2 separate regions of the Homo sapiens genome follow, and region 1 is linked to region 2. Evidence: fine-mapped expression QTL. A gene starts in region 2. The other region holds a variant in brackets. All regions are shown on one strand. Distances are from middle to middle. Region 1 overlaps PAM (peptidylglycine alpha-amidating monooxygenase). Region 2 holds the start of PAM (peptidylglycine alpha-amidating monooxygenase).

Region 1 (4,391 bases), 30 kb after region 2:
GCATACTGGAATGTCTTTGAGTATCCCTTGGGATGTGCATGCAGCAGTATGAGGGCCACTTAACTAGAATGGAAAAGGGGAAGATGAATAGAACCCAGCGCCTGCCGTCAGGGAGCATACCAGCTGGAGGGTGACAGCCTCAGGAAGACCTAATTGTAGAACACTTGAATGGTTTCCCTCTCCTCTTGGATCAAGTTCAAAATTCTTCATGATCTACCCCCATCTTTTTTTTTTTGAGGTGGAGTCTCGCTCTGTCACCCAGGCTGGAGTGCAGTGGCGCAATCTCGGCTCACTGCAAGCTCCGCCTCCAGGGTTCACGCCATTCTGCCTCAGCCTCCCAAGTAGCTGGGACTAAAGGCGCCCGCCACCACGCCCAGCTAATATTTTGCATTTTTAGTAGAGATGGGGTTTCACCGTGTTAGCCAGTATGTTCTCGATCTCCTGACCTTGTGATCCGCCCGCCTCAGACTCCCAAAGTGCTGGGATTACAGGCGTGAGCCACCGCGCCCGGCTGATCTACCCCCATCTTTCTCTCTGTTCTTACCTGGTGCTCCTCTTCTCCCTGTGTAACCTCTAAGCTCCAATCATACCAGCCTTTCTGTCCCTAGCACACCTAAGCTGCTCCTGCCTATGTGCTATTGGGTCAAGCTGTTTTGGTGGGCTAGAATGCGCTTTTCAGTTTCCCCCCTTGCACCCACACACCTTAGATTTCAGGTTTCCTTGGCACCGTAAGCTTGGAAAAATTTAGGTATCACTGTTGTAAGCTCTCATATGACCCTGTCCTCCTCCTTGTACAGTACTTATTACAAAAGTCACTAACGTTTGGTATTCATTACCTTAAACTCTGATTACTTTTGTGCTGTTCACTTTCTGAGGACAGGTACCATCTCTGTCTTATCTAACCAGATATTCCCAGCAGAGAATGTAGCCTCTTCCATATTAAGGGTGAGTCATACATATATGTAGAATTGAATTAAAAATATACTCAACGTATTTGTTGAATTGAATTGATGTTAACATTTATGTGAAACATGACTTTGTGTCAGTCACTGGCGGGCATTTACTATATATTATCTCATTTAATTCACACAAAATCATTTGGGAATACATGCTTTTAGATAGGCAAACTTTATTATTGTTGTTATTCGTTTACTAGGAATTTTTAGGCAAAGCAAGTGCATAAACACCAGGTGAGTGGTCTTAAATGCCATGTTAAGGATTTGGAACTTTTTACTAAACACCAGTGATTCTCCATACTTTAGGAAATCAGAATCACCTGGAGGATTAAAAACAACAAAAAAGCAATGCCCGCATATAATTGGTTTAGGATTCAGCAAGTCATTTTATAAAACTTCCCCAAATAGACTTTTTTGTTGTTGTTCTTTGTTTTTTTATACTTTAAGTTCTGGGATTCATGTGCAGAACATGCAGGTTTGTTACATAGGTATCCCAAGTAGTTTTAATGCACAGCACTGATTGGGACACTAAAAAGTAGTGATGCTAGCCCAGCAGCATTAACACCACCTGTGAACTAGTAAGAAATGCAGATATCTGGGCCCCTTCCCAGTTTCACTTAATAAGAAAAGGGAGGGGGGAGTCCCCAGCAATCTGTATCTTAGCAAGCCTTTCAAATGAATCTCATGCCCTTTAAAGTTTGAGAACCTCTGTTATAAACAATTGGAAACTTAAAAAGCTTTGTACTTTTGTGTTTTACAAAAGAACTTTGGTAGATACGTGGGAGACTGAATAAATAAGGGACAAACCAGAGGGTAAGGCAACCTGTTAGAGCTGTTACCTTTAGAAGTATCATGTGGAGGTAAGAAGATGGCAATAAGAACTAGAGTGGTGGTTATAGGAAGGAAGGAAGGTGGTGGGATCAGGAGATGTTTCAAAAACAGAAATGGTGAAATATGGTGACTGATTGGCTTGAAGAGGTTGAGGGAGAGAGTGAGGTCAAAGAAAATATAATTTCTTTCTGAGTTAGTTAAGTGACATCATGAAACAAGGCAGAAATGTGTTTAGAAAGTGTAAGTTGGGGGAAACCATAAAAGTATTGAATATAAGGTGTCTTCAAGCATCTAGTAAGAGATGTTTTTGTCTCGTTGGAAATTTGGTTTCTGGAACTTTGGAAACAAATGGGGAGTAAGGAGTGGTGTTGGAAGTTCTCACCATTGTATTTAACTTTTTAAAAATCATTCATTCAAGTGGTTATATATGTACTAAATTATTTTTTTAACATGTTCGTTTTATTTCAAATTGAGCCAAAGATGTTGAACTTTACACAAACTATAATCTCTTACATTGGATCATTTATATGAAGTTATTTTTAATAATTATTAGAATTTATGGAATATGTTAGCAGAATTATGGTAAAGCAAAGTTTGCATTTTGTAAATTTACTGTTCCATTCTTGGGTCAAGTGTACAGTGAACACATTCATTTTCAGAGAAAGAACTGAGAGGACACAAGCAAGAATACATTTCACATTTCAGCTGTTAAAGGAGGCAATTTTGTGTCATGTAAGCTCACAGATCCTGGAGCCAGACTGAGCTCTGTCCACATGTAGAAGGTGTGACTTTGAACAGACGTTACTTAAACTCTGAGCGTCTTCATTTCCTAATATGCAAAATGGAGAAATTAGTATTATTCATCTCAGGCTTTTTGTAAGCATTGAATGAGTTAAAACCTGTAAAAGTACTTTGAATAGCGCCTAGAATTTAATTCG[T/C]AATCATTAGTGTAAGCTCTTATTAATATCAATTTTTTATTCTCTACTTAGTCTTATTTTCTAAATCGTTGCTATTAACAGTTTCTGAGTTTTTTAATGTGGTTTCTGTTAGTTTTATGAACTGCTGAACATCAAAGGGAATGATTATAAACTAGTGATTTCTAGGAATTAAATTTTGAACCATTCATGGAGAAAATGGAGAAAGGCATCACAAATGTAGTATAATTTCTAAATAAATAGCAACTAAAAATTACTTTCCAAGTTAGACACATGCCATTTTTTAGGTCAAAGTTGCGGGTCAGAAAGGTACTGGGCTCCAGATTCTTCACAGCTTGAAATCTTACTTCATTCATCATTCTGAGCATAGTCAGTAGCAAATCAATAATTTACTTGAAAAGAAACAAGTAACTTACTACTCTTTTGATATGTGGTATAGAGGTCAAGAATATATCTTAAAAACTCTATATCAAAAGTTATAAATAAGATAACTACCAAGCAAAGGCTGATTATAATTAATAATAATAATGATAAATCCCAGCAGATATATTTGACCCCTGTAATGAGAAGAAGGTAACACCTCTGGAAGCAGAAAAAAATCTTACTCTCCCATCTGAGATTTGTAAATTAAGGCTGTTCATTACTGCTGTTGAATTATAATGATCTGAATTTCACTTAAAATCTCTTAATTTAGAAATCATTATGCTGGTGGAAAGGCCAAGGAGAAATGCTTCATCCTTAGCATTTTATTTATCCTCCTCAAAATAGTTTTACCATCCTTATTTTTCAATCTATTTCAAGTGGGGTTGGGAGCTGGCAGAAGAAGAATAGATGTAGTTCTTGGTATTTGCATCTCTAGGTCCCGCCAGACCCACACAGCTCTTCTGACTTGAGCATGTTCCAGCCATGTTCTAAATGTAGCTACCATTATCCCGTGCTGTCTAGAGTTCTTATGTTCTGGGACCTGAGACATATTTTCTGTACCTTTCACTAAGCACAGGAAATCTATCCCAACTATGGGGACAGATCTGTCCCAACTGTGGGGACAAAACTGCCTCCTTTAACAGCTAAAATGTGAATGTAAATTTTTCTATACCTTTCACTAAGCCCAGGAAATCTGTGCCCAATTATGGGGACAGATTTCCTGGGCTTAGTGAAAGGTACAGAAAATAGGCTACTGTATGGTCTAAATGCCTAAACTCAGCTTGAACAAGACCCCAGTCAGCTTCACTCCTGGAAGAAAACTATTGTGCAGCTCTTAGCAAGGAAATTTGTATTTGATACTTCCTAGGGGACCCGTAGTTCCTTCAGAGTTACGAATCCCTTGGTGAGTGAATGGAAAATCCAACCAATTATAGAGCATTTCAGAGAAAAAAATGTTGGCTATTCTCAGGAAATGTTGGGTATTTCCAGTATTCATATCTCCCATCTATGGAACTGGAGTTCTCTAAGCCATTATAGTGAGTCTCTGGCTTGGGATTTATTAAATTATTCATGTATGGTAGATATTTCCAGGTTGCTGCTATCATTATTGGCAAATTTGGCAAAATAGATCAATTTGCTTTTGATTTAAGAACTAAAATAGTATCATATCTGTGAAAAATCCTTTGCTATTCCTCACCGTAAAAATACTTGAGGAAAGTCCTATTTCAGTTCACTTGCACTCACA
Region 2 (4,391 bases):
AGACGTATTTGAGGGAGGGTCTCAAGTGCTTGCTTTCCTTAACAACCCAGACCAGGAGGAAGAGATAAAGTGACTTAGGAGATGCCTAAAGATGAAGAACAGCCCGGGATCCGTAAACAGACTCAGCTCGGTGTCTTCTCGCACCTTCTCAGAATCAAGTTTCCAAAATGAGGGTCATCCGCCTGCCTTGGAATTTGGGTTGGGAAGTGGATGGAGTTCCTGGACACATGCTCTAGGCCCTGACCAGTCTGGCCACTGCTCACTAGGAATTCTGTTGGGAGGGTGTACAACAGATTTTCCAACTGGTCTACAGCGAGCATCGGTAGTTTCCCTATGGAGAAAATGATTTTCTTTCTGGGAATCCCCCTATAGCCTGAAGGCTTTGCCTCATTTCCCATAGCTCCTCTCCGGTGTACCCCTTCGGTTCGCACTTTCCTACCTTCTTCCCAGTCCACTGGCTTCTCCTTCTTTATCTTCCTCAGTGTCCCTTCTCACAACCTCCCTGCTACCACACCAGATTCTGAAGGGGAGGAGTTGTCTGGAAAGACCAGAGCTGGGTGCTGGGGATCTGGAGCAGCTCGGGACCCGCGCTGCAGGGAGCTGGGATGGGAGAGGTGAGGGAGAGGAGGATGGGACTCTGGGAGAAAGAGAGGGGGCTGGGCTGGCGCTGGGGATGGAAGAGGCGAGGTGAACGCACTCAAGCGGTTACCTGCAGACAGGGAGAGACAGTGGCAAATACCTGCCTTCAATTAAACGCATATCAATTTGTGTGTGGGGTCAGTACTGCACATCATCAAGCCTCTTGGGTATAAAACCTTCCTACTGGAACTCTCCAGCCCCGCCCCCACCACCCCACGCGCGGCTCCCTGCTTTCTCTTGCTTTGGGGTGAGGCTGGGGATGTGGGTGGCTCCAGAGTTCCCTGCCCGCAGTTTAGGGGCGAAGTGATCGGTGTGTGCGCGCTGGGCACTCTGCGGGTTAAAAAGGTTTAGCAGAAAGGGATGCAGATGGAGGCGGGAAGCCAGGCTAAGAAAGGGATACCGACCTCCCTCCTCGGGTCGGAGGTGTGAACTGGGAAGCACTGCGCAGACCTGAGCGAGGTGGCCTGAATCCAGGGGCCGGGCAAGGGGGTGGTGTGAATAGAAATAGCACATTTCCCAGGCTTTCAGCCCCGGTACTCTGCCATCCTTCCAGTTCCATGCACTCAGCCAGGTCTCCAGGCTGGAGCAAGGGCTGGGGGTCAATGGGTCCTTCCTTCTCTCGGGAAACGTTCTTCTGGCGCGAAGCTGGGCGGAGGGAGAGTCGGACATTTTCCTCTGCTTCTCTCAGGGCAGCTGGCGTGGCCACCTCGCAAGGCTGCTTCTAGGGACACGAGACTCGGGAGGGTCAGAGACTTTCAGGCCGGGCCTTCACTCCCTTCCCCGGGGCACTTGGGCAAGAGTTCCAGCTCTTGGCTACCTCTGGCCCGCGCGTGAGTTCAGACACCCAGCACACGCGACCCCCGCAGGGAAACCCCGGGAAGCTGCGCGCAATCGCTGGGGACTCGCCAGGGCTCCACTTCCCAAGCTCCGCGCCCCCTGCGCCCAAAGAGGCAGGGCGGAGCAGAGGCCGCCGGCGTGGAGGAGGCGAGCGCGGGGCTGGCCCGGGAGCCGCCCCCGGGGAGGGACTGAGACCTGCCCCAGGAGTCGAGGGCGAGCGGCGGACCCGGCTGGGCCCGGCGCACGCCGAGGAGAGGGAGCCCCCGCCACCGCCGCTGCCTCCGCGTGCTCAGCCTGTCCCCGCCCAGGGAGCCGGAGCCTCCAACTAACTCCGCCCGCCGCTCCGCCGCCCGCAGGCTCCGGCTTCCGTCCCGGACAGAGCCCGTGGTCGCGCAGGTTGGTGTTGTTGCCGCTGCTGCCGCCACTGCGAGGCGGTCAGGGCAAGGGTGAGGGTGGGGGCGCGGAAGGGGGCCTGGGCTCGGGATCCTGCTGCCACCAATTCCTGGTGCCCCAGGAGGTTGTTGCTTTTTCTCCCGGGCTGCCCGGGTCGGGGGTGGGGGGATGGGGCGGGGATCCAGCGATGCGGCCAGGGAGGATTTTGGGGACTGAGCTATTCTCGCATTTCCCAAACCTCTCTCACGACCCTTCATCACCATTATTAAGTCCCTGGCCAGTTTGTGAGGGGTCGTCCTCCCCTCCGGTCCTTCTCACCTCCGCACTTCTCCTTGTGCCCTCTCCCTAGGGGGTACAATTTGTTCATTCGCCTTTTCTGCCCCCAACTTGGAGAACTCTCCGTGACGCCTAGAAAGCCTCCTCGGTTCTCCGCCCGCCCTTCAGTCTAGTTTGGGGAAGTAGAGGCCGCCGCGGAGTAGCAACCTGGGGTGTGGAGTGGGGGCGAGTGCCGGGAAGCAGTGGAAATTCCTTCCCCTCTTTCTTTCCCGTCCTTGCCCAGCTTTGCTCTCTTCCTGCCGTTTTGCCAGCCTCCGAATGTAATACGCGGGCGAAGGGCGATCTCCAAGGCAGAATGGGAAGTATCCACCACTTGGGATACTAGTTAAGTCTAGGTTCAGTCACCTTCCCAGCTCTGTGGCCTTGGGACCCGCCCCATCGGAACCTGTATGTTGTCATCTGCAAAATATGCGTCAGCTCTGCCTGCCGCTGAGGGTAGTTGTGGGGCTCCCTTGGGATGACTTAGGGTATTACGTGATTTTGAGCACGGTCTCTTGTCTCGTGCAGCTGCCTGATGGCAGGTCCTGTGTTCTGATCGTCTGAGTTCAGGTCCTTTGGCTGAGATGTGATTATCTCTCTGGGTGATTTGGTCAGTAGCTTTGCGGGGCTAAAAGGCATGTGTTCCTGGAGCTGGTCATTGGGGTTCAGAGTTGAAATCGTGTCGTCCCCACCAATCCCTGTGTACAAAGCTATGGACCTTACATCCTGTGCCTTTGTGGTCATAGAAATTCAAGTAGAAGGAAGATCTTATTGGACTTTGTTTGCTTCAGATGTTTTACATTCTTTACAATCGCTTTTCTCTTCTAGGTGCAAACTTAAATTTACTGCTAATTCTAATAATCCAGGAAGGATACTTTCATTTTAGTAAAATCAGACATTTAGCTCAAATAACATGTGACATATTGTTTGTAAATTTTCAGTTTATAATCACAGGCACAAAAAAGCATAGTTCATGCCATTCTAGTTACTTTATAAAGCAAGTAAATGGCCTAAAAAATCAGCTTTACAGGAAGTCAGGGCTGCAGTGAACTGTGTTTATACCACTGCACTCCAGCCTCGGTGACAGAGCAAGACCCTGTCTCAAAAATAAATAATCAGCTTTAGAATTGATATTAAATGGTAAGCCCTGTCGTTCCTGCATTCCTGACTTAATAGGCATTTTCATTCCGCGATGCACTCTGCTATATGCTTTAAAGATATAAAGATATAGAGTATGTTCCTTGTCCTGAAGGGCCTTCCAAGGTAACTTAAAGACTATGTAGTTTTATTTCATATTTTTATATGAACAGTCTTCTAATGACTATACATGGCAAGTAGAATGAGGTCAAGAATGCATTATCAAAGGCCCTTTAAGATCATCATTTGGCCGGCTGCGGTGGCTCACGCCTGTAATCCCAGCACTTTGGGAGGCCGAGGCGGGCAAATCACAAGGTCAGAAGTTCCGTACCAGCCTGGCCGACATGGTGAAATCCCATCTCTACTAAAAATACAAAAAATTACTTGGGCATAGTGGCAGGCACCTGTAATCCCAGCTACTTGGGAGACTGAGGCAGGAGAATCGCTTGAACCTGGGAGGTGGAGGTTTCAGTGAGCTGAGATCACTCCACACACTCCAGCCCTGGTGACAGAGTGAGACTCTCTCAAAAAAAGATAAAACTAAATAAATAAATAGATAAAAAATCATTTGGTGAGTTTGCATAATTGGAAGAAATAACAAGTTTGTTAAGACATTGCTTTCTAAAATAAAATGCCATGTGCTCCTACTTCATCAAGGTGCACTTGGAAATAAAATGAATTCTGTGTTTTTAGAATGAAAGCTTAGGAAAACATTCTACACATGTATGATGTGCTAATCAAATGTTAAAAGCTATAGAAATTTTAATTCTAACTTCCTTCAACTGTATGTTGTGGTTCCCACATACAGTTTTTTTCTCAACTCCTTGAGGAAGGAAATTATAATGCCTAGAAAAAATATACAGAGATTTAATGTAAGATTTTTAATAAGCTGGACCTTAAGGCCTGGTGGGTCCTGAAGTGACTCTGGAAATTTGACTTTAAAAGTTACGAGACTTGGTGAGACTGAGTGTGGTGGCTCATGCCTGTAATCCCAACACTTTGAGAGGCTGAGGCGGGAGTATTGCTTGAGTTCAGGAGTTTGAAACCAGCAACATAGTGAGACCTTCTCT

Evidence for each region. PIP is the estimated chance that this variant, and not a neighbour inherited with it, causes the effect.
Region 1: its variant is fine-mapped to the expression of PAM in whole blood (INTERVAL, PIP 0.98).

The regions. Positions count from the first base shown.
Region 1 is chr5:102,783,680-102,788,070 of GRCh38, forward strand. The region is part of intron 1 of PAM (peptidylglycine alpha-amidating monooxygenase); the gene reads left to right. Among named protein-coding and RNA genes, the nearest start is that of PAM, 31 kb to the left of the region's middle. The variant T/C (reference allele first, on the strand shown) is at 2,726.
Region 2 is chr5:102,753,477-102,757,867 of GRCh38, forward strand. It overlaps PAM (peptidylglycine alpha-amidating monooxygenase), which reads left to right and starts at 1,829. Exons shown (of 26, transcript NM_001177306.2): 1 at 1,829-1,872. RefSeq lists enhancers at 858-1,383, 2,391-2,891, 2,463-2,552 and a silencer at 1,523-2,072.